Regions from separate parts of the Homo sapiens genome. Here regions 1 and 2 are each linked to region 3. Evidence: fine-mapped expression QTL. A gene starts in region 3. Each other region holds a variant in brackets. All regions are shown on one strand. Distances are between the middles of the regions. Region 1 has its middle 35 kb from the start of NUMBL. Region 2 overlaps NUMBL (NUMB like endocytic adaptor protein). Region 3 holds the start of NUMBL (NUMB like endocytic adaptor protein).

Region 1 (10,826 bases), 35 kb after region 3:
GTTATAACTTGTCTGAACAGGACCTAGTTTGAGACACTAAAATAAAACATCAGATTGAAAAGAGCCCCTATCAGAGCAACACGAATTCTAAAATTGAAGCAAGAACAAGCATCAAATTGATGGTGAAGCTTGGGTGGAAGAATGATGAAATCATTGATGTTTTCCAAAAACTTGACAGTGCCCCAGAGAAATCAGCCATTTACAAATGGATAACTCGTTTTAAGAAGGGACAAGTTCGGGCGTGGTGGTTCACGCCTGTAATCCCAATACTTTGGGAGGCTGAGGCCAGCGGATCATTGGAGCTCAGGAATTCGAGACCAGCCTGGGTAACATGGTGAAACCCCATCCGTACAAAAAATACATAAATTAGCTGGGTGTGGTGGTGCACACTTGTAGTTCCAGCTACTCAGGAGGCTGAGGTGGGAGGATCACTTGAGTCTGGGAGGTAGAGGTTGCAGTGAGCCGTGATTGCGCCACTGCACTCCAGCCTGGGTCATGCTGAAGATGAAGCCCACCGTGGCATACCATCCACATCAATTTTTGCAGAAAAAAATTAAATTTGTTTATGCCTTAATTAAAGAGGACTTACAGTTAACAGCAGAAACAATAGCCAACACCATAGACATCTCAATTGGTACAGCTTACACAATTCTTTTTTCTTTTTTTTTTTTTTTTTTTTTGAGACAGGGTTCTCATACTGTCGCCCAGGCTGAGTACAGTGGTGAGATTGTGGCTCACTGCAGCCTCAACCTCCTGGGCTCAAGCGATCCTTCCACCTCAGCCTCCGAAGTAGTTGGAACTACAGGTGCGTGCCAGCACGTTCAGCTAAGTGTCACACGCGTCCCTGTGAAGAGACCACCAAACAGGCTTTGTGTGAGCAACAAGGCTGTTTATTTCACCTGGGTGCAGGCAGGCTGAGTCCAAAAAGAGAGTCAGCAAAGGGTGGTGGGATTATGATTAATTCTTATAGGTTTTGGGATAGGCGGTGGAGTTTGGAGCAATGTTTTGCGGGCAGGGGGCGGATCTCACAAAGTTCATTCTCAAGGATGGGAAGAATTACAAAGAAACTTCTTAAGGGTGGGGGAGATTACAAAGTACATTGATCATTAGGGTGGGGCAGAAACAAATCACAATGGTGGAATGTCATCAGTTAAGGCTATTTTCACTTCTTTTGTGGCTCTTCAGTTGCTTCAGGCCACCTGGATGTATACGTGCAGGTCACAGGCGATATGATGGCTTAGCTTGGGCTCAGAGGCCTGACACTAAATTTTCGTATTTTTTGTAGAGATGGGGGTCTCATTAGGTTTCCCAGGCTGGTCTTGAACTCCTGGACACAAGTGATCCTCCTGCCTCATTCTCCCGAACTGCTGGGATTACAGGCTTGAGCCACCTCACCCGGCCTCAGCTTACACAATTCTGACTGAAATTAAAGCTAAACAAACTTTCCACTCGATGGGTGCCAGAACGGTCGCACCCAGATCAGCTGCAGAGAAGAGCAGAGCTTTCCATGGACATGCTAAACAAGTGAGATCGAGATCCTAATGCATTTCCTTGAAGGATTGTAACGGGAAATGATACATGGTTTCACGGGTGCAATCCTAAAGACAAATCGTAATCAGAGAATGATTGCCAAGAGCGGGGAAGTGATCCAGTCAAGGCAGAAGCACACTGGTCAAGAGCAAAGGTCATAGCAACAGTTTTTGGGGATGCTCAAGGCATTTTGCTGGTTGACTTTCTGTAGGGTCAAAGAATAATAAGATCTGCTTATTATGAGAGTGTTTTGAGAAAGTTAGCCGAAGCTTTAGTAGAAATAAGCCTGGGAAGCTTCACCAGAGAGTTCTTCTCCAGCATGTCTACGCTTCTGCTCATTCTCCTCATCAAACGAGCAATTTTACAAGTTTTGATGGGAAATTATTAGGCATCCACTTGGCAGTCCCAATTTGGCTCCTTCTGACTTTTTGTTTCCTAATCTTAAAATCTTTGAAGGGCACCCATTTTTCTTCAGTTAAGAATGTAAAAAGACTGGGCTGGGCGGAGTGGCTCACGCCTGTAATCTTAGCATTTTGGGAGGCCAAGGAGGGTGGATCACCTGAGGTTGGGAGTTCAAGACCAGCCTGACCAACATGGCAAAACCCTGTCTCTACTAAAAAAAAAAATACAAAAATTAGCCAGGTGTGGTGGCTCATGACTGTAATCCCAGCTAGTCGGGAGGCTGAGGCAGGAGAATCACTTGAACCCAGGAGGTGGAGGTTGCAGTGAGCCGAGATCATGCCACTGCACTCCAGCCTGGGCAACAAGAACAAAAAAAAAAGGCCTGGCACAGTGGCTCACAACTGTAATGCTAGCACTTTGGGAGGCCGAGGCGGGCAGATCACCTGAAGTTAGGAGTTTGAGACCAGCCCGGCCAACTTGGCAAAACCTCGTCTCTACTAAAAAAAAAAAAATTAGCCAGATGTGGTGGTACATGCCTGTAGTCCCAGCTACTCAGGAGGCTGAGGCAGGAGAATGGCTTGAACCCGGGAGGCAGAGGTTGCAGTGAGCCGAGATCATACCACTGCACTCCAGCCTGAGCAACAGAGTGAGATTCCATCAAAAAAAAAAAGAAAGAGAAAATGTAAAAAGGCTGCACTGACATGATTAAATTCCTGGGACCCTCAGTTATTTAGGGATAGACTAAATGGCTGGTATAATGGTTTACAAAAGTGTCTTGACTTTGACCTTGATGGAGTTTATGGTGAGAAATAAAGATTTTTTTAAAATTTTTATCTCTTAATTCCATTCTCCATCAACTTTTTGAATTCCCCTCATAACACAATAGCAATTTGTAGCTCATACCTATAAGCTTAGATAGCATACAGTAGCTCATACCTATAAGCTTAAGTAGACATTTACATAACTTTTAGATATCTATAGTACGTAGATAGCTACAGATCAATGTAGATGTCGAAAGAGAAAGAGCGAGACCAGGCCAGGTGGTTCACGCCTGTAACCCCACTGCTTTGGAAGACTGAAGCAAGGGGATCGCCTGAGGCTGGAGGTTCCAGACCAGCCTAGACAACATAGCAAGAACTCATGTCTACAAAAAAATTCTTTTCATTAGCTAGGTATAGTGGCACACACCTGTAGTCTGGGCTACTCGGGAGGCTGATGCAGGAGGGTCTCCCGTGCCTAGGAGTTTGAGGCTGCAGTGAGCTATGATCGAATCATCGTACTCCACCTGGGCAACAGAGAAAGACCCTGCCTCTTAAAACACAAAGAAATAGGCCCAGCACAGTGGCTCACGTTTGTAATCCAAGCACTTTGGGAGGCCAAGGTGGGGGGAATCACTTGAGCCCAGGAGTTTGAGAACAGCCTGGGCAACATGGTGAAAACCCGTCTCTACAAAAAATACAAAAATTAGCTGGGTGTGGTGGTGGGCACCTGCAGTCTCAGCTACTCAAGAGGCTTAGAAGGGAGGATCGCTTGAGCCTAGCAGGTTGAGGCTGTAGTGAGCTGTGATCACACCACTGCACTCCAGCCTGGGCAACAGAGTGAAACCCCATCTCAAAAACAAACAAACAAACACACACACACAAACCAAAACAAAAACAAAAACACAAAAGGCCAGGTGTGACGGTTCACGCCTGTAATCCAGCACTTTGGGAGGCCAAGGCAGGCGGATCACCTGAGGTCAGGAGGTCAAGACCAGCTGGCCAACGTAACAAAACCCTATCTCCACTGAAAAATACAAAAATTAGCTGGGCATGGTGGTGGGTGCCTGTAATCCCAGCTACTTGGAAGGTTGAAGCAGGGAGAATTGCTTGAACCTGGGAGGCAGAGCTTGCACTGAGATCGCACCATTGCACTCCAGCCTGGGTGACAGAGCAAGACTCCGTCTCAAAACAAAAACAAACAAAAAACTGCAAAAACCTAGTGAATCCATATCCACAGTATATTATTATATCTTCTACTTTTCTTGCAATTCTTTTGCATGTTTAGAAATTTTCTAAATAGAAGGGTGGGGGTAGGGGTGTGGTAAGCATCTGCCTTAGAGGAAAGCAGGAATTGTCCATGAGTGGCATATGTGGAATGAGGAGAGGAAGTGCCTCCATATTGCCTGGGTTTCTGGCTTGAGGTCCCAGGTAGAGACATTTTTGAGACTGGGAAGATTGTGATCGTGGAGGGGAATAGGTGTGAAGGGGAAAAATCAACGGTTTAAGAATGACCACCAAGTGTTGGTCAGAGGCTTGTCAAGAAAAAAGAAACCACATGAAGTATTTCAACAAGAAAATTGAATGTAAGGATCTACCTTTCAAAGCAGGTGAGTCTCGAAGGCACTGGAATGTGTGGCTGGAGCTCTGAGGAGGGGGTGGGCTGGGGCCAGGCACAGAAGATACCAGGGATGTATTCATTGCAACACAGGGAGGGTGGATGGACAGCTGAGTAAAGACAAGACCCCTCTCTGGGTACAGCTGTGTAACTGAAGGCAGAGGCATGTGGAGAATGGGTTGTCTTAAGAGTGGGTCAGCCTGGGGCACACATTTCCTTTTCTGAGCAGTGGCCCAGCAGGCTCTAGAATGGGGTTGAGGCATAGTTTCCAGAGGTTTTTTCTTTTTAGAAGTCACCTGCTTATTATTTTTTGCTTTATGCACTCATAGGAGAGTGAAGATGAAAAAGATTATGAAAGAGAGAAATTGATTCACTTTTGAGGATCCCCAGGGTTTTGGAACAATCTTTGAAAACCCCTTCAGTCACAATATTTTGTGGCTCTCTCTTAACTTGTGCAGTTAATCCATAATGGTTGGGGTTTCAGCAGGTTTGCCATTATGACAAGTGCTGTGGTGGACATCCTTGTTGCTAAATTCTTCTGTACACATGAAATCATTTTTTTTAATTTTAAAATTTCTTTTTTTCCTTTATTTTTTATTTTCTTTCCTTAAATACTCTCCTATTCCAGAATAAAACCATCTTTTTTTTTTTTTTTCTCGAGATGGAGTCTTGCTCTGTCACCCAGGCTGGAGTGCAATGGCACGATCTTGGCTCACTGCAATCTCTGCCTTCTGGGTTCAAGAGATTCTCTTGCCTCAGCCTCCCGAGTAGCTGGGATTACAGGCCTGTGCCACTAGGCATGGCTAATTTTTTGTATTTTTAGTAGAGGCGGGGTTTCACCACGTTGGCCAGGCTGGTCTCGAACTTCCTGACCTCGTGATCCACCCACCTCAGCCTCCCAAAGTGCTGGCATTACAGACGTAAGCCACCAC[G/A]CCAGGCCGAATAAAACCATTTTTAATTGACTTATTTATCCTCCCCACCCCTTTTCAATGACTTGGAAATCAGGATGTGTCTTATAAATGATTATGTGTCATAGTTTAACTGGCAGCTGTTTTTTCTCCCCTGGGGATTTGAAGTGACAATGCATCTTGGCTGGGTGTGGTGGCTCACCCTTGTAATCCCAGCATTTTGGGAGGCTGAGGCGGGTGAATCACTTGAGGTCAGGAGTTTGAGACCAGCCTGGCCAACATGGTGAAACCCCATCTCTACTAAAAATACAAAACTTAGGCGTGGTAGGGCACACCTGTAATCCCAGCTACTCAGGAGGCTGAAGCAGGAGAATTGTTTGAACCTGGGAGGTGGAGGTCGTAGTGAGCTGAGATCGCACCACTGCACTCCCACCTGGGCAACAGAGCAGGACTCTGTCTCAAAATAAAAATAAAAAATAAAATAAAATAAAATAAAAAACAATGCATCTTACCTTTGATGGCTTCTTGGATTTGAATGATTACTGTAATAACAGTAATACTCAGCGTAAACACCCACATAACACTGTGTGCCAAGGTAACTCTTATAACAACGCTGAGAGGCAGATACTATTATTGTCTCCATTTTCCAGAAGAGAAACTGAGCCACAGAGTGGTTAAGGAACTTGGCCCAAAGTCACACAGCTAGAAAGCAATGAAGGGGAGCAGAACCCAGAAAGTGGCTCCAGGGTCTCTGTATTTTTAGGGTTTCCAGTAGATAGTACAAGATGAGCATTATGGTTAAGATTCCTCCCTCCTGGGCCAGGCGCAGTGGCTCACGCCTGTAAATCCCTGCGCTTTGGGAGGCCAAGGAGGGTGGATCACCTGAGGTCAGGGTTGACCAGCCTGGCCAACATGGCAAAACCCCGTCTCTACTAAAAATACAAAACGTAGCCAAGTGTGGTGGCAGGTGCCTGTAATCCCAGCTACTAGGGAGGCTAAGGCAGGAGAATTGCTTGAACCTGGGAGGCAGAGGTTGCGGTGAGCCAAGATCACACCCCTGCACACCAGCCTGGGGGACGAGAGCAAGACTCTGTCTCAAAAAAAAAAAAAAATTCTTCCCTCCTACTCCCCAGCTTTGTTTGTACACAAGGGACCCCTTCCAGGCCACAGATAACTGAACCAAAGTGATATTAACCCATCCAAAGGGGCCCTTTTGACATGCACTATCTCCTACATGGCTGCACGTTGAACATACCTAACCATCCCAGGCTTACAAATGCTTTTAGAGCAAGTTTCAAAGTTTGGTCCAGGGTTTCCTGGAGGTCCCTGAGACTTTGTCCACAAAGTTAAAATTACTTTCTTTTTTTTTTTTTTTTTTGAGATGGAGTCTTGCTCTGTCGCCCAAGCTGGAGTGCAATGGCGCAATCTCGGCTCACTGCAAGCTCCGCGATTCTCCTGCCTCAGCCTCCGGAGTAGCTGGGACTACAGGCGCCCGCCACCACCCCCGGCTAATTTTTTTTTGTAATTTTAGTAGAGACGGGGTTTCACCATGTTAGCCAGGATGGTCTTGATCTCCTGACCTCGTGATCCGCCCGCCTCGGCCTCCCAAAGTGCTGGGATTACAGGCGTGAGCCACCGCGCTCGGCCAAAATTACTTTCATAATAATTCCAGGACTTTTTTTGCGTATTTCAATCTCATTCACTTATGAGCATACAATGGCTCCATGACATGTGATGACATAATTGCTCTGCCAGTGTGTGCTTGTGGATGGCTGGATTTTAATATTGTCAGTTTTAGCCTAGGCAACACAGCAAGACTGTGTATACAAAAAAATCAATAAATTAGTTGGGTGTGGTGGTGCACACCTGTAGTCCCAACCACTCAGAAAGCTGAAGCGAGAGGATCACTTGAGGCCAGGAGTTCGAGGCTGCAGTGAGCTGTGATCATGCCACTGCACTCCACTCTGGGCAACAGGGTGAGACCCTGTCTCAAAAATCAATCAATAATAAAAAATTTGTTTAAATGGCCAGTTTTAAGTTCTAATATGGTAAATATCAATAGCTATAACCCACACAGGCCGGGCGCAGTGGCTCATGCCTGTAATCCCAGCACTTTGAAAGGCCGAGGCGGATGGATGACCTGAAGTCAGGAGTTGGAGACCAGCCTGGCCGACACGGTGAAACCCTGTCTCTAATAAAAATACAAAAAAATTAGCCAGGCGTGATGGCGCACACCTGTAGTCTCAGCTACTCGGGAGGCTGAGGTGGGAGGATTGCTTGAACCTGTGGGGCAGAGGTTGCAGTGAGCCAAGATCACACTATTGCACTCCAGCCTGGGCGACTAGAATGAAACTCCATCTCAAAAAAAAAAAAAAGTTATAACCCACACAAATAAAAGCTGTTTGGGGTCCTTGATACTATTAAGAATGTAAAAGAGTCCTAAGACCAAAAAGTTCCAGAACAGTTGCCTATAGCAACATTTCCCGAGTCACTGTGACAGTCCCTAAAGGATCCCACAGATCCCCAAACATTTCCCCAGGCCCAGGCCCTGGATGACAGTCACAGCCATGAGCTGCCGAGAGCTCTTTGGGATCAAGACCTTTCCTTCAGGTTCGTACTATGATGTCAAATTGGATTTTTCCCAGAACTTCCAGAATTGCTACTACTGCCCAAAACTGAGGACAAAAGTGGCCAACTACCCCAGAGCCTAAGTTCGAGGTCACTGCCATTATAACCAGCCACTTACCCAAATAAGTTACTGAGAGGACCCAAGGCTGTCCAGAAAAGGATAGAGAAGAGAAAGGAAGCATCATCCTGTTTGGGGGGAAAATGAGAGAGGAAAGTTCTCAAGAGAGGCTACACCTTTCCCTCCCCATGAACTTTGTGGGTTTTTTTGTGTATTTGTTTGTTTGAGACCGAGTCTCACTCTGTCGCTCAGGCTGGAGTGCAGTGGTGCGATCTCAGCTCACTGCAACCTCCACCTCCTGGGTTCAGGTGATTCTCCTGCCTCAGCCTCCTGAGTAGCTGGGACTACAGGCACATGCCACTATGCCCGGCTAATTTTTAAATTTTTGTATTTTTAGTAGAGACGGGGTTTCACCATGTTGGCCAGGCTGGTCTTGAACTCCTGACCTCAAGTGATCCACCTGCCTCGGCCTCCCAAAGTGCTGGGATTATAGGTGTGAGCCACCGTGCCTGGCCTGAAGGCTATGTTTTTAAATGAATGAAAATGAGAGAAATATTAAAGACTCTAGCAAAATTGTCATTAAGTTTCCCTGTAGCCTTTATCCAACAGGAAAAAGGAAATTAACAATACATTTATTTTTAAAAATAAAAATAATAGACAGGCCGGGCGTGGTGGCTCACTTCTGTGAGCCACCTTTGGGAGGCCGAGGTGGGTGGATCACTTGAGGTCAGGAGTTCAAGACCAGCCTGGCCAATATGGGGAAACCCCGTCCCTACTGAAAATACGAAAATTAGCCGGGTGTAGTGGTGCGTGCCTGTAATCCCAGCTACTCCGGAGGCTGAGGCACGAGAATGGCTTGAACTGGCAAGGTGAAGGTTTCAGTGAGCTGAGATCGCACCACTGCACTCCAGCCTAGGAGACAGAGCTAGACTCTGTCTCGAAATAATAATAATAATAAAGACACAGTCTTGGGGCCAGCTGTGGTGGCTCATGCCTGTAATCCCAGCACTTTGTGAGGCCAAGGTGGGTGGATCATTTGAGGTCAGGAGTTCAAGACCAGCCTGGCCAACATGGTGAAACCCTGTCTCTACTGAAAATTCAAAAATTAGCCAGGCAGTAGTGGTGTGCACCTGTAATCCCAGCTACGCAGGAGGCTGAGGCAGGAGAATCTCTTGAGCCTGGGAGGCAGAGGTTGCGGTGAGTGGAGATTGCGCCACTGCACTACAGTCTGGGCGACAGAGTGAGACCCTGTCTCGAAAACAATAAATAAATAAAAAAGACACAGTCTTGGATGCTGTGATTTTGGATCATAGTCTTGGAAAACAATAGATAGCAGGTAGAGAGCAGTCACTGCAGAACAAATGGAAACTGTCATGTTTTTGATCCCAAGGGATTGAGATTTCTCAATAAACTATTTCTGTTTAGAACAGGGAGTTGGAGCTGTGCCCAGGTGGATGTTATTGGGCACAGGCTGTATAGAGGTGGGTCTTAAATCAGTACCAGTAAAAGCCAGATGTAACTTCCAAAGATGGTGGCAACAATGTTTCCCAGCCCATATATTCCTCTAGAACTTTGATACCCCTTCCATTGGGAAGTGGAATTTGTGTAAGCTCCCCTTACATCTAGGCAGTTTGTGACTTGCTTGTAACCAAGACTATGTGGCAGAAGTAATGCTGCATGATTCCAAGGCTAGATCAGAAGAGATAAGGCCCCTTCCTTTCCTTCTTTCCTTCCTTCCTTCCTTCCTTCCCTCCTTCCCTCCCTCCTTCCCTCCTTTCTTTCTTTCTCTCTCTTTCTTTCTTTCCTTCCTTCTTTCTTTCTCTCTTTCTCTCTTTCTCTTTCTTTCTTTCATTTCGATGGAGTCTCACTCTGTCGCCCAGGCTGGAGTGCAGTGGCGTGATCTCGGCTCACTGCAACCTCCGCCTCCCAGGTTCAAGCGATTCTCCTGCCTCAGCCTCCTGAGTAGCTGGGACCGCAGGCCCGTGCTACCATGCCCAGCTAATTTTTGTATTTTTAGTAGAGACGGGATTTCACCATGTTTTCCAGGCTGGTCTTGGACTCCCGACCTCAGGTGATCCACCTGCCTCAAGCTCCCAAAGTGTTGGGATTACAGGCGTGAGCAACCGCACCCAGTCGCGGCTGCTACTTTCATAAAACACTTGTACTGGATGCCGAAGCTGCCATGTAAGTCCAACTGCCCAGAGGCTGTCATGATGTGAGGGAGCCCAAACCAGTTCGCGTGGAGAGACCACATTGAGAAGCCCTGAGACAACATGGAGTGGGGAGAGAGTAAGAGAAAGAGAGAGAGAGAGAGATCCATCCACCCCCAGCTGCTTCCCTGTTCCAGTTTCAGCTGCCAAGTGACTGCAACCATATGAAATTCCAAGTCAGAACTGCCCAGTTGGGTCCTTCCCAAAACTCTGACCACAGACACAGTGAAAAATAATAGGATGACTGTTGTTGTTTTGGGCCACCATATTTTGGAGTGATTTGTTACCAAGCAATAGTAACTAGAAAGAGGGAAATGTGTGGAGCATAAGGAGCTTGCAAAGAAAAGCAGCCTTAAGAGGTGAGAATGGCCATGTAATGACGATAACAGAAGCTAACATTTGAACGCTTTCTGTATATGGGCACCATTCTCAGTGCTTTGCATTAACTAACTCATTTAATCCTCACGGGAACTCTACCATATGAGTGCCTTCATTATCTCTATGTTACTGACGGGAAACAGGGCAGAGAAGACAGAAATTTGTTTGGAATGGAAATTGAACCCAGGTGTGGCTCCTGCAGCCCTAGTGTGAGCCACTCACCTTACTATTTGAGGAACATGTGACTTGGCTCAGCCAATCTGGCCATTATGGTTTTTCCTTCTGTCCCTCCGATCACAGTGATTGGCTCTTGCATGAACACGTGCCCTCTGTTGG
Region 2 (9,668 bases), 19 kb after region 3:
TGGTGTGATCTAGGCTCACTGCAACCTCCACCTCCCGGGTTCAAGCAATTCTGCCTCAGCCTCCCGAGTAGTTAGGATTACAGGCATGGCTAATTTTTGTATTTTTAGTAGAGATGGGGTTTCACCATGTTGGCCTCAACTCCTGACCTCAGGTGAGCCACCGCGCCTGGCCTTCTCAGGGCTTTTCAACCTGTGTATTAAGACCTGGGAAGCCAATTTGCTGTACTGTGGCTGGCATTTTTTGTTTTGTTTTGTTGTCTGAGTTGAGGTCTAATTCTGTTGCCCAGGCTGGAGTGCAGTGGTGCGATCACAGCTCCCTGCAGCCTCAAACTGCTGGGCTCAAGTAATCCTCCTGCCTCAGCCTCCATGTAGCTGGGAATATAGGCACAAGCCACAGCATCTGGCTAATTTTATTTTTATATTTTGTAGAACTGGGATCTTGCTGTGTTTCCCAGGCTGGTCTCAAACTCCTGGCCTCAAACGATCCTCCCACCTCAGCCTCCCAAAGCACTGGTATTATAGGTGTGGACAACTGGGCCCAGCCCATGTGGCTGACATTTAAAAAAATGAAATCAACCTGGGCAACATAGGGAAACCCTGTCTCTACAAATCATTAAAAAATTAGCCAGGCGTGGTGGTGCAACCTGTGGTCCCAGCTCCTCAGGAGGCTGAGGCAGGAGGATCACCTGGGCCCAGGAGGTAGAGGCTGCAGAGAGCTGCGATTGCACCACCACACTCCAACCTGGGTGACAGACAGAGTGAGACCCTGTCTCAAAAAAAAAAAAATTAATTTAAAAACAATGAAATAGAGAATCATAGAAAATATCAGAGTATATTGAATGGCATAAGGGTTAAATATAATTTAATGATACTTTTATTTGAGAGAGAGAGTGTGTGTGTGTGTGCACGCGTGTGTAAGAGGCTACCATATAAAAGATATCTCTTAACTCTGGATTGCCATCAAGAAAGTTTGAAACATACTTGGTAAAACTAACTTTCTAGGTAAATGGTTAAATACTTTGTAAGTTCTAAAACTCTGTGTGTGTGTGTGTGTGTGTGTGTGTGTGTGTGTGTGTTTAAAATATAATTGTATGTATGTCCTGAGTCACCATATAATTAATTTATTTATTAATTAATTAATTTATTTATTTATTTTACTGTGAATTTAAGTTCTTTGGGAAAACACTACTTAGAATTTACAAAGAATTTACCATTGGGAACTGATCCTGATTAAGGGAGACTAATGAGGTTTAACAGGTATTAATAGATGCGAGATGTGATCCTGAATTAGATCCTGGATTGTAAGGGGAAAAAAAAGAACATCTTTTTTTTGAGACAGAGTCTCTCTCCGTCACCCAGGCTGGAATGCAGTAGTGCCATCTCAGCTCACTGCAACCTCTGCCTCCTGGTTTCAAGACATTTATGTGCCTCAGCCTCCTGAGTAGCTGGGATTACAGGTGCCCGCCACCACGTCCAGCTAAGTTTTTTTTTTTTTTTTTTTTTTTTTTTTGAGACAGAGTCTTGCTCTGTTGCCCAGGCTGGAGTGCAATGGTGCGATCTCGGCTCACTGCAACCTCTGCCTCCCGGGTTCAAGCGATTCTCCTGCCTCAGCCTCCAGAGTAGCTGGAATCCCAGGCGTGTGCCACCACACCCAGCTAATCTTTTTTTGTATTTTTAGTAGAGATGGTGTTTCACCATGTTGGCAAGGCTGGTCTTGAACTCCTGGCTTCAACTGATCCCCCCACCTTGGCCTCTCAAAGTGCTGGGATTACAGGCGTGAACCACTGTGTCCAGGCATGCTTTTGTTGGATTCCAAAACATTTAACATTCACTACCTAAACTGACCCTCTCAGAGGCTTGGGAGGTAGCACTGAGATGTTTATCCCAGGTTTCTAGTTGGCAAACTGGAGCCCAGAGAGGGGAGGGGACTTCCTGAGGTCACACAGTGAGTGGAGGCAGAGGAGGTTTCCTGGTTCCAACCTGTCCTGGGCTGTTTCCACTGCCTTGGGCCAGGCCTGCATGGGTGCCCCATTGTGTCACGATGGGAGAAGCAGCACTGGGCGACATCCTTATGGGAGGGTCTCTCTGGGCCTGAGTTTAATCTCCATGGCATTCAGGCTGCAGCTCGGGGAGGCCCTGGTAGGAGGGTAGATGTGTGTTTGTGGTTTGGCAGGGGTGAGGGCAGCCCTGCCCTTGAAGAGCCTGCCTCTCCTGCTGAGTGGGGAGGTCAGGTTTCCTCCCAGAGTACAGAGAACAGTCTCAGAGTGGAGGGAGCCAGGCTGAGAGCCTGGAACAATCTGGAAAGCTTCTCAGAGGATGAAGCATCCAAGCCATGTCTAGAATGACTGGAGGAAGGGAGGAGCTACTTGAGGTGGGAAGAAGGCTGGGAGGTGGGAGACAGAGGGGAACAGACAGTGACAGAGAAAGACAACATGATATGGAGAGACAGGTCAGAGGGAGACAGGGCGGGCAGTCATTTGGAGCATGGGGTCCAGAGTCAGCCTGCCCCTTCCTAGCAGTAGGACTTGGGCACATCACACTGGGCCTTTGCTGGGTCTCAGTTTCCACATCTGTAAAATGAGAATCATATCAACCCCATGGGTAGTCGTGTGGATTGAATGAGTGAATACTTGAAAAGCATCTGGAACAATGCCTGATACGTTGTTCCAGCACCAAATCAGTGTTTGTTAAGTGATCAAAAAGGGAGATAGAGGGTCTTAGAGGGAAGAATGGTGAGAGCAGCAGGGCAAGACAGAAAGGGGCAGGAAGCTGGAGAGACACAGAGGGTGAGCCTGGGGGACGGTTTTCCAAGAGCCTCCTGGGGAAGGGGATCATGACTTGGGTGGGGGTGAGGGATATCTCAGGGCTTTGACTAGCTTGTCTTAAGGGCAGGACTCACTGGGCAAGGAAGGCAGCCTTGGAGAATGATCAAGAGAACCAGGTGGGAGAGGCCTTGCATGCCATGGTGAGATATCTAACCATCCATCTCCCCCATGTCTCCAGCAGAGGCAGCAGCTGCCCCCACTGTGGCTCCTGGCCCTGCCCAGCCTGGGCACGTGTCCCCGACACCAGCCACCACATCCCCTGGTGAGAAGGGTGAGGCAGGCACCCCTGTGGCTGCAGGCACCACTGCGGCCGCCATCCCCCGGCGCCATGCACCCCTGGAGCAGCTGGTTCGCCAGGGCTCCTTCCGTGGGTTCCCAGCACTCAGCCAGAAGAACTCGCCTTTCAAACGGCAGCTGAGCCTACGGCTGAATGAGCTGCCATCCACGCTGCAGCGCCGCACTGACTTCCAGGTGAAGGGCACAGGTGAGCCCTGGGCCCAGTGGGAAACGGCGTTGGAATCAATTGGCACTATCTGATGTGGGCAAGGGATGGAGGCGAGATGGTTCACACTGTGATTGATTTGCACTGTCTGCCATGGGCAAAGGAGAGAGAGTGGGAACATGTCATGATCGATTAGCAGTGGGCAAGGGAGAGGAAAGAGATAGCACAAATCAGGATTGATAAGCCGTGTCTGCTCTGAGTAAGGGATAGTAGAAAGGCATCACAAGTTATGATCAGTTAGCAATGTCTGGTGTGGTTAAGGAAAAGGAGAAAGATGACACACATCATGATTAGTTAGCAAAGTCGGCTATGGACAAAGAAGTCGGGCATGGATAAGGAAGTTTGCCATGGGCCAGGGAAAGAAGAGAAGCAACACCATTGGCCTGTTTTTGCTCAGGAGTAGACTGAAGCACTACAGGTTAATGCTCCCTCCCTCCAAGCATTCACCTATGAGATCTGGCTAGGTGAAGGATACAGGTATTCCTCAGGCTCTGAGGAAAGGAGGATTGTGATGGATTAGAAATGTCTGCCTAGGGCAGGGAGCATCAAGGGATGGCAAAAAAGGCATCACAAGTCATGATCAATTAGCAATGTCTGCTGTGGTTAAGGGAAACGAGAAAGATGGCACACATCATGATCGGTTAGCAGTCATGATCTCCATGCAGTGTGTGTCATGGGCAAGGGAGAAGAAAGAGTAGCAAGAGTGTTATGTTTTTACCCAAAGGGGAGACTCCCAGAATTTGGTCAGTAGAAACATGACATGCAGGGCACCAGTGAGCTCAGAGATCCCAGGGGTCAGGGGCATAGTGATGGATCAGGAACATTTGTTGTAGGCACAGAGTTGAGCAGAGGCAGTACCCATCACGAAAAGGAGCAGCACATCATAATTGATTGGCATTGTCTGCCATGGCTGGTGGTAAGAGAGAGGAGATATAAAGGTCCTGTTTTACTTGGAGGGAAGATGGAGTTACAAGGATCTGTTTCTTCTAGCACTTGGCCAGGGGAGCCATGAGGTCTGGACAGGTGACGGGTAAGGTGAGCAAAGAGCTCCGTGGGGGAAAAAAGCATTGTGTTTGATTACTAATGTCTGCCATGGGCCAGGGAAAGGAGACAGGTGGTGTACATCATGATCTAAAAGTGATGTCTAGCCAAGTGCAGTGGCTCATGCCTGTGGTCTCAGCACTTTGGGAGGCCAAGGCAGGCAGATCACTTGAGCCCAAGAGGGGCTCAAGGATCCCTTGAGGCAGATCACTTGGCTAAACCCTGTCTCTACAAAAAAATACAAAAACTAGCCTGGTGTGGTGGCGCATGCCTGTAGTCTCAGCTACTCAGGAGGCTGAGGAAGGAGAATTGCTTCAGCCCAGCTGCAGTGAGCTAAGATTGCGCCACTTCACTCCAGCCTGGGCAACAGAGTGAGAACCTGTCTCAAAAAAAAAAAAATTAAGAGCAATCTCTGCCATAGGGAAGGAAGATAGAGGTGGCACGCTACTGAGTTTTTGCCTGAGGGAGGCAGGCAGAAGGGCTGTCTTCCCCACCAGCAGCCAGTGAACCCATGTGGTCTGGCCCACTCTCTTGCTCCTGGATGCCAAATCTGCATCGCCTACCCGTTATGTCCTCGGGGATTGATGTGGGAGGGTGTTGAGCTGTATCCAGGAGGCTGGGCTGCTCCAAAAGGTAACCGGTGAGCAGATGCCAACCCTTGTTGAGAGTGACGCACGCTCCCTCCATGCCTGCAGCATTCCTGGGCCATCACACACCCTCACATTTGCTGTCCTTAACGCAGCCTGACATCAGGCACACTCCCCAGGCTGTCACACGTGCTCCTGAGAGGTGGCAGGAGCTCCAGGCTTTATTTGGAAGCCTCACACTCCTGTGGCCAGCTGCACGCTTATTTGGATGTGACTTGCCACACAGAAATTTCACATACTCACATAGACATTGCACCCCCCCACACACATGTCACACATGCTCAGAAGTCACAAACTCACAGTCAGGTATACTCTCAAGTCACACACACTCCAAAATCACAGAGTCAGAAGTCACACATGGCCAGACGTGGTGGCTCACACCTGTAATCCCAGCACTTTGGGAGGCTGAGGCAGGAGGATCACTTGAGCTCAGGAGTTTGAGACCAGCCTGGGCACCACAGCAAGATCTCATCTCCACAAAAAAATTTTAAAAATTAACCTTTATTGTTAACCAGGTGCAGTGGCATGCACCTGTAGTCCCAGCTACTCAGGAAGATTGCTTGAGCCTGGGAGGCGGAGGTTGCAGTGAACTAAGATTGTGCCACTACACTCCAGCCTGGGCAACAGAGCGAGACCCTGTGTCAAAAATAAATAAATAAATATTTTTAAAAAAGAAACACACTCAGATTTACACACCTTCACAGACCACACACCCAGATTTATGCAAACTCCAAAGCCACATGTGCAGATCCATGCACACCTGCAAACACACTCATACATCACACGGCAGATGCACTCACACCTGGGAGTCACGCATCAGGACGCCACACACCCGGACCCCAGTCACACTCTCAGAAGCTGCATTCCTGTTTGGACGAACATGCACAATCATTGTCGACATTGGCTGTCCCACCCGGGCGCCCCCGCAGCACACCTGCAGACTCCTACGGCCAGTTCTGATGTTCACTGGAGCATCTACATGGTCCCTTGGAGACAGCCATTGGCTAAAACATCACAGACATGTGTCACACACCACACATGGGAGTCCTTAATTGTTTATTTGGATGGTACCTTTGCTCATCACAAGCCCTCACGGGGCCGCCATGCCTGCTCAGTGTCTCCTGCCTTGCTGGCACAGGTGTATCTCTGCTCTCATGATGTTTGCCATAGATCAGCCTGGGTGGGGTGGACAGGACCCCACTTCTCTGCCCAAAGCTGGACAAATGATCCCCAGCCAGTGAGCGGCCATGCCACAGCCCATTCAGACTGGGCCCATGTCCTTGCCATGCACGTGGTTGGGCATATTTTTAAACTAATATATGTTGCTAAGTGTTTTAGACAACTCTTCTGGTTTGTGGCCACACACAAATCTTGAGGTCCTTGGTTTGGGGTCCCTGTTACTGTCAGCCGTCAAATGTCACACACTAACTCAGTCGTTCTGCCGCTCAGATGTGACACACACATATGCACAGTTATTTGGCGGTCATGGCCACTTAGTTACTACAGTGGGAAAGGATCCAGGTCAGAAGAGAGGGCCACCGAGGGCGGGGGGTAGAGGGCGGGGCTGCGGCAGGGTCTGGGCCTGTTTGCTGACCTCTGTCCTGCCCTGCTTCCCAGTGCCTGAGATGGAGCCTCCTGGTGCCGGCGACAGTGACAGCATCAACGCTCTGTGCACACAGATCAGTTCATCTTTTGCCAGTGCTGGAGCGCCAGCACCAGGGCCACCACCTGCCACAACAGGTAAAGCCAGGCTTTCTGCTGGGCAGACACCCTGCATGTCCCTCCTGTATCCCCTCCTCTATCCAGGGCTACCCAGACACTCCAGGGGTCTTGGGATCCTACAGGCTTAGAACCATGGATCACCTCAGAGCCAGGGGATCATCCTACAACCATGGATCATCTTAGAGCCATGGGATTACCTGAGAATCATGCGATTACTTTAGAACCATGGATCATCTTAGAGCCAGGGGATCATCCTAGATCCATGGATCATCTTAGAGCCACGGGATTACCTGAGAATCATGCAATCACCTTAAAAGCAGGGATCATCTTAGAGCCAGGGGATCAGCCTAGAACCATGGGATTATCTGAGAATCGTGTGATCATCTTAGAGCCATGGATCATCTTAGAGCCAGGGGATCATCCTAGATCC[G/A]TGGTTCATCTTAGAGCCATGGGATTACCTAAGAATCATGTGATCACCTTAGACCCAGGGATCATCTTAGAGCCAGGGGATTATCCTAGAACCATGGATCATCTTAGAGCCATGGAATTATCTGAGAATCATGTGATCACCTTAGAGCCATGGATCATCTCAGAGCCCTTGATCATTTTAGAGCCACGGGATCCCCTTAGAACCATGGGATCATCCTAGAACTATGGATCATCTTAGAGCCATAGGATCACCTTAGAAACACAGATCATCTTAGAACCAGAGGATCATCCTAGAACCAAGGATCATCTTAGAGCCGTGGGATTACCTGAGAATCAAGTGATCACTTTAGAACCATGAATTATCTTAGAGATACGGGATCATTGTAGAGCCACGGGGTCACCTCAGAGGCATGTGCTCATGCTAGAATCTTGGGATCACCTTAGAGCCCAGAGATCGTTTCAGAACCATGGAATCCTTGAGAACCATGTATCATCTTAGAGCCATGGGCTTATCCTAGAACCACAGGTGCACCTTAGAATCTCAAACACTGTAAATGTAGAACTCGAGAATCTTAGAAAGCCCAACCCTAAACTGTCAAACCTTACTATGTTAGGATACTATTATACATGTGGAGAAAGATCCATGCAATCTTAGAATCTTAACTCCTAAAACAATACATTCTGAAGGTATTAGAAAATCAAGGGTGATATTCAAAATAGTGAATACCAGCTGGGTGTGGTGGCTCATGCCTGTAATCCTAGTACTTTGGGAAGCCGAGGCAGGGGGATTACTTGAGGTAGGAGTTCGAGTCCAGCCTGGGCAACATGTTGAAACCTCGCCTCTACTAAAAATACAAAAAATCAGCCGGGCGTAATGGTGCGCGCCTGTAATCCCAGCTACTCAGGAGACTGAGGCACGAGAATTGCTTGAACCTGGGAGGCAGAGGTTGCAGTGAGCCCAGATAGGGCATCCCTGGGCAACAGAGTGAGACTCTCAAAACGAACAGACAACAAACAAAACAAAATAGTGAATCCTAGGCTTGGCACTGACCAGTCAGAAGGGTAGTGGGGCTAGGAGGATGTCAGTCCTACTTAGACTTTCTCATCATAGGGCCTTAGAAGCTCAGAATTGTATGTTCTTAGCACTCCAGAACCATTACGTGGTCCAGAATGGTGAAGTCACTCGCCTGAAGTCAGCAAGCTCGGGAGGTGCAGAGCTGGGATTCAGAGGCAGGCGGTCTGGCTCCAGAGTCCGTGCTCTGATCCCCACACCATGCCAGTTCCCAGCCTGGGGTTCTTCTGCTGAAGCCGTTGCCCCCTCCCTCACCTGTCCCTCTCCTCTCTCCAGGGACTTCTGCCTGGGGTGAGCCCTCCGTGCCCCCTGCAGCTGCCTTCCAGCCTGGGCACAAGCGGACACCTTCAGAGGCTGAGCGATGGCTGGAGGAGGTGTCACAGGTGGCCAAGGCCCAGCAGCAGCAGCAGCAGCAACAGCAACAGCAGCAGCAGCAGCAGCAGCAACAGCAGCAAGCAGCCTCAGTGGCCCCAGTGCCCACCATGCCTCCTGCCCTGCAGCCTTTCCCCGCCCCCGTGGGGCCCTTTGACGCTGCACCTGCCCAAGTGGCCGTGTTCCTGCCACCCCCACACATGCAGCCCCCTTTTGTGCCCGCCTACCCGGGCTTGGGCTACCCACCGATGCCCCGGGTGCCCGTGGTGGGCATCACACCCTCACAGATGGTGGCAAACGCCTTCTGCTCAGCCGCCCAGCTCCAGCCTCAGCCTGCCACTCTGCTTGGGAAAGCTGGGGCCTTCCCGCCCCCTGCCATACCCAGTGCCCCTGGGAGCCAGGCCCGCCCTCGCCCCAATGGGGCCCCCTGGCCCCCTGAGCCAGCGCCTGCCCCAGCTCCAGAGTTGGACCCCTTTGAGGCCCAGTGGGCGGCATTAGAAGGCAAAGCCACTGTAGAGAAACCCTCCAACCCCTTTTCTGGCGACCTGCAAAAGACATTCGAGATTGAACTGTAGCCCGAGCCGCCCCACCCACTCCATCATCTCCAGGTGCCCCACGCCTGGGGGTGGAGGCACAACCTCTCCCCTAACCCTGCTCCCTGGGGCTGCGCCCCTCAACACCCTCTCAACACCCCCCTCCCTCAACCACCCCGACAACCACTACAGAACCAACATTGTGACGCCCAGGTTGCAACAGGATGGAATTCAGGGACGGACCCAGCCTGGCTAAGGGAACCATTTCACTGCCGGACTTAGGCTGGCAATGCCCCCTTCCCCAACCCCAGACACAGGGGTTGGCCACAATCCCACTGAATGCCCTTGGTTCACACTCCATTTCCCAGTTTCTGTTGACCCCCACCTTCCAGTGTTGGACAGGATGGAGGGGGGACACTTGCTTAGGGGCTCTCCTGGGCCCCACACCAGTGCCCACCCCAAATCTGGTCGTCTCCTCCCCCCATGCACAGCACAAGCTAAGGGCTGCCCTCTGCCCACACGCTG
Region 3 (10,826 bases):
AGGAGCAGGCAGGGTCATGGGGAGGGAGACAGATCCTGGCTGCCCCAATAGACAGTGAGGGTGTGAATGGGATCCCAGCATTCCTTTCACCATTCCTTGCTTCCAGGTGACCCTGCTGGACTTTGGTGCAAGCCGGGAGTTTGGGACAGAGTTCACAGACCATTACATCGAGGTGAGTCTCCCCCAGACCCCAGGGCCTCTGAAAGGCTGAGGCTCAAGCCATATACTGAGGCAGAGGAGTAAGAAGGCGAAATGCAGTTTCTGGAATTAAGAAATAATAAATAATAGTAATACTCGTAGCAACTAGCACACACCAAGCACTTAATATGTCAGGCTCCATCTTTAGTGCTTACGTATAGGAACCGATATAAACCACACAGCAACACAATGCGAAAAGGACCGTTTTTAGGCCCGTTTTAGGCCAGATGAAGTAACTGGGTCCTGGAGGGGTTAAGTCACGTGCCCAAGATCACAGCAGACTTGGGATTCAAATTCAGGTGGTCCAGGTCCAGAGCCCAAGCTTCCAACCACTGCCCAGCTCCCTCCTAAGAGAAAGGCCCACAGTGACCATCTTGTCACCTCTCCAGACCCCATGCTGTCCAGGGCCCTGGTGTCCAGCCCAGGTGTGTGTCCCTGGGGGCAACTCTGTCTACAGGAGGTGTTTCCTCACGTACTTGGCTCGTCTCTCCCACCCACTGGGGTCAGTTTGTCTTAGAGGCTGCAGAGAATACCATTTCATTCGTTGTTGAGATTGGACATTTGCCCTGGGTCCTCTAATCATGTAGCCATCAATCTAAACGTTTTCTTTTCCTTTTTTTTCTTTTCTTTTTTTTTTTTTTAATTGAGACAGAGTCTTGCTCTGTCGCCCAGGCTGGAGTGCAGTGGCTCGATCTTGGCTCACCACAACCTCCACCTCCTGGGTTCAAGCGATTCTCCTGCCTCAGCTTCTCGAGTAGCTGGGATTACAGGCATGTGCCACCACGCCCGGCTAATTTTTGTATTTTTAGTAGAGATGGGGTTTCACCATGTTGCCCAGGCTGGTCTCGAACTGCTGACCTCAGGTGATCCTCCTGCCTTGGCCTCCCAAAGTGCTGGGATTACAGGCATGAGCCCTCCTGCCCAGCCAATCTAAATGTTTTCTGACCCCTCCTCTGTGCCCAGCTCTATTCTAGGCAAAGCTGGAGACACAGCAGTGACCTGGGCCCAGCCTAGGCCCCTCCTCACAGAACTCATAGTCAGTGAGGCGACAGTGAGGACCTAGCATGGACAGGGCTGGGATGGGGGAAGCGCAGGGCACTGTGAGCCCAGAGGAGGAGCCTGAGCCAGCCTGGGGAGCCAAGGAGGGCTTCCCGGAGGAGGGAGTGTCAGCATTGAGACCTGAGGGATGAGGGGGGCCAACTGGGAAAAGGCTCGGAGGGTATTTCAGATAGACAACATGTGCCAAGACGAGGCAGTGATAAGGGACAGTCCCATTAGAGCAGCATTTCTCAGACTTGGATGTGCATGTGAAGCCTGGTGATCCTGTGCAAGTGCAGATTCTGGTCTGGAGGTGGGTGTAAGATGCTATGTTCTGACACGCACCCATGTGAGGCCAGGGCTACCCGTATGGGGACCACACTGGTAGTAGTAAGGCCCTAGAGCACCCAAAGGAAGCTCCCATTCTGAGTGGGAGGGCAGGTCGGGGGGCAGCACAGTGACGAGGCTGCAGCAAATCACTGCGGATTTTAGAGGCTGCGCTCTACAGCTCGTACTGTATCCAGGTGCCCTGCGGAGCCGTGGAAAAGATTTGAGCAGGGAAGGGATGCAGTCAGAATTTGAAAACTCCCTCTGAATAAGAAGTGGTCTCTAAGCCTGGGGGTGGGAGCTCAGGGCAGCTGTGGAGAGGGGCAGAGGGGTGGCTGGGAGATGCCCAGCTGGCAGTCCATGGGAGCAGACGGGCTAGAAGTTGGGGACAGAGGTGTCTAGGGGTCTGGTCTGGGGACTGGTGGGGCCACCTCTGAGACAGGAACAGGAAGAGGAGGTGATAACCCCTTACACACAGGCCCCTTGGGGCCCTCTCTGCCGGCCACTGAGGCACAAAGCTGAGACCCTTCTTCTCCCCACTGACACCCTCCCCTCCCACCCAGGCCTGCAGCCTTTGCCACTTTATAAAAGCCCTGGCTTCTGAGGACCACAGGCCTGACAGATGGCCAGACATGCTCGGGCAGGGGGAGCAGAGAGGGAATGGAATTAATCCCGAATCCCCCTCCTCACAAAAAAGGGCAACCCAGTAGTGAGTGGTGTGACCCGGTTCCACTCCCTACTCCGGGTCTGCTTCCCCTTCTGTGAAATAGGGACCCCCGTGCCCACCTCTTAATAATGGTAGATTATAGTATTTACGGTGCTTCCTGCATGAGACACAGCGCCAGGCAGGCCACAGGCATCACCTTCTTTATCCTCCCAACAGCCCCATGAGGAAGGCACTTTTGGCATCCCCACTTCACAGATGAGAAAGTGGAGGCCCAACAGGCCGGCAGGTGGCAGAGCTGGGACGGAACCCTAGCCAGCTGGCCCCAGCTGGGCATCTCTCCATGCCCACAACTCCTGCCCTGTGTGTGTGAGCTCATGGCTGGAGAGCTGCTCTGCTCCACACGCTCATTTGCTAAAGCAAGGTTCACCCAGGGCCTCCTCAGCACCAGACCCTGTGCCCCGTGCGACTAAACCCAACTGGGATCCTTGCTCTCACGGGGCTCAAAGTCCAGTGTGGGAGACAGAGAGATGGCCCCTGGCAACTTTGGATGCAGTTCTGGGTCACGCTCATACCCGTCCAGTTGAGTGTTTGGACTCACCAGCAGCCCTGACACTTGTTTCTTGCACTGTTTCACTGTGGCAGTTCCCGGGCAGGCCCCACATTGCCCTCTAGGTGGGCAGGATCCCTAACCACCTCCACTCCCAGGCTCTGGAAGAGTCTTTAAGGGAGTCACAGACAGGCAAAGTTGGGAGCAGGAAGCTTCCAGGTGAGGGAGGGCCCAGGCAGATGAGAATGGAGGTGGGTACATGGGAGGCCCAGGCTTCCAGCTCCTCTTCTCCAGAGCCCCCTTGAGCCCCGGCCTTTGTCCCTCTAACTCCCACCCGTCTCCCCAGGTGGTGAAGGCTGCAGCTGATGGAGACAGAGACTGTGTCCTGCAGAAGTCCAGGGACCTCAAATTCCTCACAGGCTTTGAAACCAAGGTGGGGAGACACTGGGGGAGAAAGGGGCTGGTGTCTGTTGGTGGGGTGCAGTGGGGGGCTGCTTATCTCCACTGAGGAACTCGAGTAGGTGATGGGGCATGTCGATACCCGGGGACTGGGGGACTCTAGGAGGGGCTTGTCTCCACTAGGGAGAATGGAGGCTGTGTGTCTATACCTGGGGAGTGGGTGACTCTAGGAGGGATGCTTATCCATGCTGGGGGCTTTGGGGAGGAGTGGGGGGAGGTGGCTGCCTGACTTCTCAGGAACCCTGGGAACATGGGCACCGTGGATCTGTTCAGGAGGGGCGAAGGCCGCTTCTCTGTTGTAGAGAGAGTAGAGGGCTACTTGTCTGTTGGAGGCTCTGCAGGGAAGTAAGGGGTGCTTACTCGGGGAATAGGCAGCTGCTTGTCTAGTCCAGGCTCTGGAAGGAGTGGAAGCTGCTCACTCTTGGGGGAGTCGGGGCTTGTGTTGATGGTGGAGACTGGAGGGAGTGGAGGCTACACGTTGTTTCTGGGTTATGCAGAGGGCTCTATGTCCACACTGGCTGCCTTTGCTCTCCCCCCACCCCCACTCCCAGGCATTCTCCGACGCCCACGTGGAGGCAGTGATGATCCTGGGGGAGCCTTTCGCCACCCAGGGCCCTTATGACTTTGGGTCGGGGGAAACGGCCCGCCGCATACAGGACCTCATCCCGGTGCTGCTGCGGCACCGGCTGTGTCCCCCACCCGAGGAGACCTATGCCCTGCACCGCAAGCTGGCAGGGGCTTTCCTGGCCTGTGCCCACCTCCGAGCCCACATCGCCTGCAGGGACCTCTTCCAGGACACCTACCACCGCTACTGGGCCAGTCGCCAGCCAGACGCAGCCACTGCCGGCAGCCTCCCCACCAAAGGGGACTCCTGGGTGGATCCCTCATGACAGCCTCCATGGGGGATTCAGTCCCCAGAGCAGGCCGTACCCTGCTGTAGTGCCTCTTATCCCTTCCCCGTCTGCCCTGGGTCAGAGGAGCCCCCTTGGGCTTCCCAGTCTTGCCTGGCTCTCCTCCTTGGCCCAGGAGCTCAGGATCCCTGGGGCTGGGGAACTCCCAACTTCGTGCCCTAGATCCTGCACCTCCCCACTCGAAAGTGGGTATCCGAAAACTAAGCCAGGGAAGCGGTTAACTTATCTTTGCCAACATTTGAGGGAGCCTTGGGCCGCTGCATGTCGTTATGCAGATCAGACTCATCAGGGGGAGCCCTCACCTCTGCCTCAAGCCTCCCGTGGAAGGCGAGATGGTCCTGGAGGCAGTCCTCACCTCTGCCTCCCTCGCTCCTCCAACAGCTGCCTTCTCCCGGGTTCCAGCCTCTCAGTGTGTTGGAGAGGTAGGGGTGCGGGGTGGGGGGGAGCTGAATCTTCAATCGGAATAAAAGCAGCCCTCCCCTTCCCCCAGCTCTTTTCTCTGCGCTAGGGTTGGGGGGAGAGGGGGAGGAGCTCGCCAGCGGCCTCCAGGTGCAGATGGCCAGCCCCCCTGCACCCCCTTGTCTGAAAGCCTCAGCCCTGCCTGTGCCATCTGTTGCCGGGAACCTCCTTCTCGCCTTCCCCACCCCCCCCCACGTGCTGACCACCTGCTCTAAGGGCTGTGGCAGCTGAGGCCTCCCACACACACAGTGCCTCTTGGCTGCGGGCTCCCTCCCCTCACTCCTGGCAACCTCGCCTTTACTAATGGGCTCTAATGTCCCTGCCAGCTGCTTTGCCAAACCCACAGGATTGGCGTAGGGGGCGGCGGGGGCGCCGTAGCGGCCAGAACCGCGCCCTGGTCCCACCCCGGCGCCCCCGTTCCCAAAGCCGAACCGATCGCGCATCAGGACGCCTTGGTCTGTTCACACCCCCTCCCCTTCCTTGCAAAAAGTGCCTCGTCACCGCTCCTGCCCGCCCCCGCCGGGCTGGGGAACCATGGGGTTAGCGGGAAGATTTGGGGGTGTGGGGCGGCAAGGCGCCTCTAGAAGCAACTCTTTCGGACGCGGAGCTGGAGGGGATCTGAGGTCAGGTGTCACGGAGGGAAAGGGAGCCCAGGCCAGGACGGACCGGGGGAAAGGACTCGGCGATGTTCATAGGCATGCTCAGCTCGGGACTGGCCAATGGGCGTGGCGGGGCGGTGGCCGCGCCGGGGAAGGCGGGATGGTGTCTGCGTGTGGGCGGGGTCTTCAGGCCAAGGGGCGGGGCGGGGCGGGACCTTTCTGCATATACGGCAGGCGGCGGGCCAATGGGCGGGGTCGGGGCGGGGAGCCGAGGCCGAGGGACGCTCCCCCGCCCCCGGAACGGAATCCTCCCGGGAGCCGAGGAGGCTCGCGCGCGTGCATCCCGCACCATCCCCCGGCCCCGGGCCCTGGCCGGCGTCAGACCGAGCTGCCGCCGCCACCACCGCAGCAGCAGCAGTCGGGGAGCCAGGCCCAGCCAGGGCCGCGGGAGGCGGGGGCGCCCGGGCCCTGGATGTCCCGCAGCGCGGCGGCCAGCGTGAGAAGGGCGGGAGAGGGGGGCTCGGGTCGGGGGCGGCGCCGCTGCTGATGTGGCGGAGGGTGGGAGGCGGCCGCGGCGCCCGGATGGAGAGAGGGTGCCAAGGCTGGAGAGGGTGGTCCCGGGTGGGGGTCCAGGAACAGGCCCAACAAGCCAAAGCCCAGGAGACCGGGGTCTTGGGCACAGACCCCTGGGCCATCTCTTGCCAAGGCCCTGGAAATAGGGATCCTGGACACAGACCCCCCACAAAACCAAGGACAGGGGTACAGAGATTCTAGGTACAACTCCTAGAACTAGATGGGGATGGAGATGGGGTCGGGGACACAGCCCCCGTATCAAACCAAGGCCTCCAGGACGCGATTCCAGACACAATCCCTACCTCTCCCTGCCTAAGGGGGTCTCAGCACAACAACTGCCTAGGTACGGTCTCGAGGATGGGGTCACTGGGTACAGCGTTCCCACCACGCCAAGGCCTAGGGGGACTCCAAGCACAGCCTGCCCCCAGGTCTCAGAGGCACCCTGGGCACAGCATCCCCCCAATCCTTGGGCGGAGTCCCAGGCACAGCCACTTCTCAAAACAAGGTCCCTGTGCCTGGGACTCCACCCCACCCCAGCCTGAATAAAATAAGGACAATTTCAGGCAACCCCCAATCCCTCCACCCCCTGGCTTGGTCATGGGTCCCAGGGCACAGGATCCCTAGGCCACCCCCTTTGTCCCCAGGGCTGCCCAGCTGTCCAAGAGTGGCCCCACCCGCAGACAATGCACCGCTTCCCCCTCCTGGACCTGGCCCTCAGGCTCCAGGATACAGGCTGGGCTGGGGGCGGCTCCCCAGGGACCGGGTGCAGCCCTGTCTGTCTGCAGTGTCTGCGGTGACGGTGACGGCGGCTTTGTGTGTGGTACCTGGGGGGAAGGGGGGAAGCAAGCGATGGGGAGGTGGCTAGGAGTGTGCCCTGTGTTTGTGTGACTGTGGCTGTGTATGTGTGTGTGTGTGTGCACGCGTACGCTGCAGCTGGTGACTGAGGAATCCTGTGTCGTGTGTGTGTGCTTGTGGTGGTGTCTATGATTGTGTCTGTGACCCTAGTATCTGTGTGACTGTGTATGTGTGTGTGACAGCTGCTCACTGTGCAGAATCCTGTACTTTTTAGTCTGTCTGTGTTTGGAGGTGTGCATGGTTGTGACTGTGGTTGTCTGTGATTGTGTCTTTTGTGACCCTGTGTTTGTATGCCTCGGTAACTATAACTGGGTATGTGACAGTATGTGTTGAGTCTGGGGGTGGGCATGCGTGTGACTGACAGGACGTGGGTGGAGTTGTGACTGTGTGTGAGTGGAGTTGTCTATGGCTCCATGTGCATGTGTGACCCTCCCAGTGACTGACAATGTTTATAGTTGTGTCTCTACCTGATTTTATATACGTGAGTGACACACACCTGTCTGTGCAACTCTGCCTGTGTGACTGCCATTGTGTCTGAAGTCACATTGTATCTGTGTGACTGGGGTTGTGTGACAGTATTGTGTATGACAGTGGTTGCGTATGCAGAACCATGTCTGAGTGTGTGACTGAGGTTGTATTAATATAAATGACTGTATCTAGCAGTGTGTGTGATAACGAGTGATTGTGTGTATTTCTAGCCTTGCATGTGTGATTTGGGTTATGTATTTGACTTGGTGTCTGAAACCCTGGCTATTTAGAGGGATTATTTGTGTGTGACTAAAGCTGTGGATGTGTCTCCGTGCTGGTGCCAGGAAATTATGTTTGTAGGGGTGTGTATATGATTATGGCTTCCATATTATTGTGTTTGACCTGCATGTCTGACCCTGGGTGACTATAGATGTCTGTGTCTATGTCATCATCTGTGAGAGTGTGGGGTCTGTAGCTGTGTGCCTGTTTTTGTCTCTGTGTGTATGTGCTGGACTACCTGTGTTAGAATGTGTGATTTGGTGATGAGATTGGCCCCTGACTGTGCACATGGCTCCGTCAGGACCTGTGTCTTCTGTGTAAACCCAGCTATAAATGCCACATCCTGGTCACTGCATTTATGTGCATACACTGGACTGTGTACTTGTGACATGGGAAACTAAAACTGTGTGCTTATGTCTCTATGTGTGAGATATGTGTGTAGGTGGGGCTTGTGACTTTGTGCACCTGTCCACACGGGGCTGTGATTCTATATGGCCACATACTTGTCTGTGTGACTTGTGTGCCTGCATGAAGAAAGGCTATATGTTTCGCTGCATTGGAGTGACATGGTACAGCTGTGTATGGACACTGGGTGACGGGATTATGACCATGATAGGTGGCTGGGTCACATGGACATTGATGCTGTGGCCATGCCTATAGGACCACCATGGCTGTGTCTTGAGGGAGGCCATCCTTGGGGACAGTTGTTTGTGGGTGGTTGCATGCTGTGGCCATCAGTACCTCTGTATGTGGTTGTGTATAGAGGACTGTCCCTATGAGTGTGGCTGTCACAATAGACTGTGTGACTGATGCTGTGACCAGATTTGAGCACCTATGACTGAGTATGTGTGACCACGTGACAGTGTGTGGCCAAAAACAGTGTGTTGGTGTGACTGGTCTGGTTGAGGCTGCATGTGGTCTCCGTGGGACCAAATGTGTGTCTGTCCGTGTGCATCTGTGACCAGATGTCAGTGTGCAGCAGTGGAGATACGTGTAACAAGTGTATATAGCTGCGATTGTGTCGTGTGGGACTGGGTCAGCAAATGGGTGAACTCTGGGTGTGATTCTATCTGGGTGGGCCTGTGACGTCAGTATCTTGGGCGGGTGCCTGAGGAAACATAGCTGTCACTGGGTGTGGCCACGCATGTGCGGCTCTAGTGGGTTGTCTGGGCCCCGTTCTTTGTATGTGGCTGAGAATGTGGAAGTGACCAAATTTCAGTGGGTGGTGTGACCAGGTGTCTGCGGTGGGAACTGAGTGGGCCAGGACATGCTGCATGTATGTGGACAAATGTCTGTAGTAGAGACTGTGTGTGTCCGAACATGAATATGCGGCCAGATGTTTACAGTGGCAGCTTTCTGGGTTTGGGACTGTTTCTGTGTATCTGCGATCTGAGGTGTGTAGCTGTGATTGCGTCTATGTGTAACCAAGTGTGTAAAGCTGTGGCCAGATGCTAGGGACACCTGTAGATATGAGTTGGCTGCGTATGTGTGTAGCCCTGCACATGCATCTGGAGGGCAAGGCCACTCTCACAGCATCCCCTTGGGCAGTGAGGCTCTCCTGAGGCCAGCACATCCCCAACATATGCCCCCCAAACATACCTACTCCTTCCTGGGCCCTTGGAACCAGGTGGCTGATCTCCCTGGTAACAGTTGCTAGGACAACTAGGACTCTCATCAGGGAGCCCAAGATGGAGGGGGCTGGCCGAAGTCCAAAGTCGGGGTGAAGTATCAGACTGAGCCCCAACCCAGACAAACTTCTCACCTTCTCCTCCCCTACTCGGGCAGGGCGGACCCCGGAGGCCTGAGCGGCACCTGCCCCCAGCCCCCTGTGGGGCCCCGGGGCCCCCAGAAACCTGCAGGACGGAGCCAGGTGAGCGACCAGCCTGGGACAGGGCAGGGCTGAATGGGTATGTGGTCTTGCCTAACACGACCAGAGGAGCTGTCCCTGCGGTCACACAGGCTTAATCACACTCATGAGTGGACACCCTCAGGCATCTTCCTCAGCGACTGTCAGAGCCCCACTCATGCACAGACCCACACCCTGACACCCTTACAGCCTCAAGTGCAGAGTCACAAACACTCACATCTGTAGATATACGGTTAGAGACACACACACACACACAGATCTCTTTCAGATCACACACACTTGCTAATGCAGTGACACACTTGAACACATGCTGAAGTAGATGTTCATCACACTAATGTACACACATATATACACACACACACATTCCTAGACAACACCCAGATTCACAGGTGACCACAGACGCTCGCTGGATACAGACTCTGAGATACACACTCTCAAGAGACACACTCTTGGCCGGGCGTGGTGGCTCAATGCCTATAATCCCAGCACTTTGGGAGGCTGAGGCGGGAGGATCACCTGAGGTCAGGAGGTCAGGAGTTCGAGACCAGCCTGACCAACATGGAGAAACTCTGTCTGTACTAAAAATACAAAATTAGCCAGGGGTGGTGGCACATGCCTGTAATCCCAGCTACTTGGGAGGCTGAGGCAGGAGAATCGCTTGAACCTGGGAGGCAGAGGTTGCTGTGAGCTGAGATCATGCCATTGCACTCCAGCCTTCATTCGCAACAAGAGCAAAATTTCGTCTCAAAAAAAAAAAAAAGAGACACACTCTTGCACAGTCTGACAACACACACAGACCCACATTTCTACAGACGACAGCCACACTTTCACAGACAGCACCCGCGGGCCCAGGCTCTCACAGGGAGCTACGGTTGTGTACAAACATGCACACAGTCTCACAAAGAACACCCAGCACTCTCTCAGGCAACAGTCACACCCTTACAAATAACCCTCATGAAAACACTCTCAAAGACAACCTCATGTTCCCACACACCCTAACGGATGCACCACTGCACACAGATACACCCTCTGTGCAATACCCACACACCCACACTCTAAGGCAACAGCCACAGTCACACAGGCTCACCGCCAACAGCTGCACTCTTGGACACAGACAGTCTTGTAGATCCCTCAGATGCACTCTCCGAGGCAATGTCATCACAGACAATAGCCACACCTTCACACAGAGACATAGCTACATGGATAACAGCCATGGACACACCCTTTGAAAGACGACAGCCTCATCTCAAACACAGACACACCCTCACAGGCAACAGGCACTGAGCCACAAGTTCTCATAGACAACAACGGCACTCTCGGATATAGACAGCAGACACACACTCACAACCACTCTCAGACATCGATGCCCTTCAGCAACAACCTTCAGGGCCTCAGACTCACAGACAACAACCACACTTTTGGATGCATCCCTCACGGACAGCATTCACAGATGCACACTATCCTACACCATTCTCAGACATGCGTTCTTCCAGACAGCCTTCAGAAACACACTCACAGACATTACTTGCCTGCTCAGATATAGAGCCCCTCATAGACAGCGTTCCAGAACATACCATTG

What was found. PIP is the estimated chance that this variant, and not a neighbour inherited with it, causes the effect.
Region 1: its variant is the best candidate, but not a certain one, in a credible set for the expression of NUMBL in whole blood (TOPMed, PIP 0.50).
Region 2: its variant is the best candidate, but not a certain one, in a credible set for the expression of NUMBL in blood mononuclear cells (TOPMed, PIP 0.79).

Annotation. Positions count from the first base shown.
Region 1 is chr19:40,650,409-40,661,234 of GRCh38, reverse strand. No RefSeq gene overlaps it. Among named protein-coding and RNA genes, the nearest start is that of NUMBL, 35 kb to the left of the region's middle. RefSeq lists an enhancer at 8,948-8,997. The variant G/A (reference allele first, on the strand shown) is at 5,241.
Region 2 is chr19:40,666,985-40,676,652 of GRCh38, reverse strand. NUMBL (NUMB like endocytic adaptor protein) reads left to right here. Exons shown (of 10, transcript NM_004756.5): 8 at 3,004-3,309; 9 at 6,633-6,755; 10 at 8,515-9,668. The coding sequence ends at 9,185. Among named protein-coding and RNA genes, the nearest start is that of NUMBL, 19 kb to the left of the region's middle. The variant G/A (reference allele first, on the strand shown) is at 7,168.
Region 3 is chr19:40,685,335-40,696,160 of GRCh38, reverse strand. NUMBL (NUMB like endocytic adaptor protein) reads left to right here and starts at 5,510. Exons shown (of 10, transcript NM_004756.5): 1 at 5,510-5,701; 2 at 9,166-9,250. The coding sequence starts at 5,678. It overlaps COQ8B (coenzyme Q8B), which reads left to right. Exons shown (of 15, transcript NM_024876.4): 13 at 107-172; 14 at 3,124-3,210; 15 at 3,788-4,631. The coding sequence ends at 4,126. RefSeq lists silencers at 4,818-5,057, 5,378-5,717 and enhancers at 4,404-5,341, 6,557-6,606, 6,280-7,219, 8,343-8,637.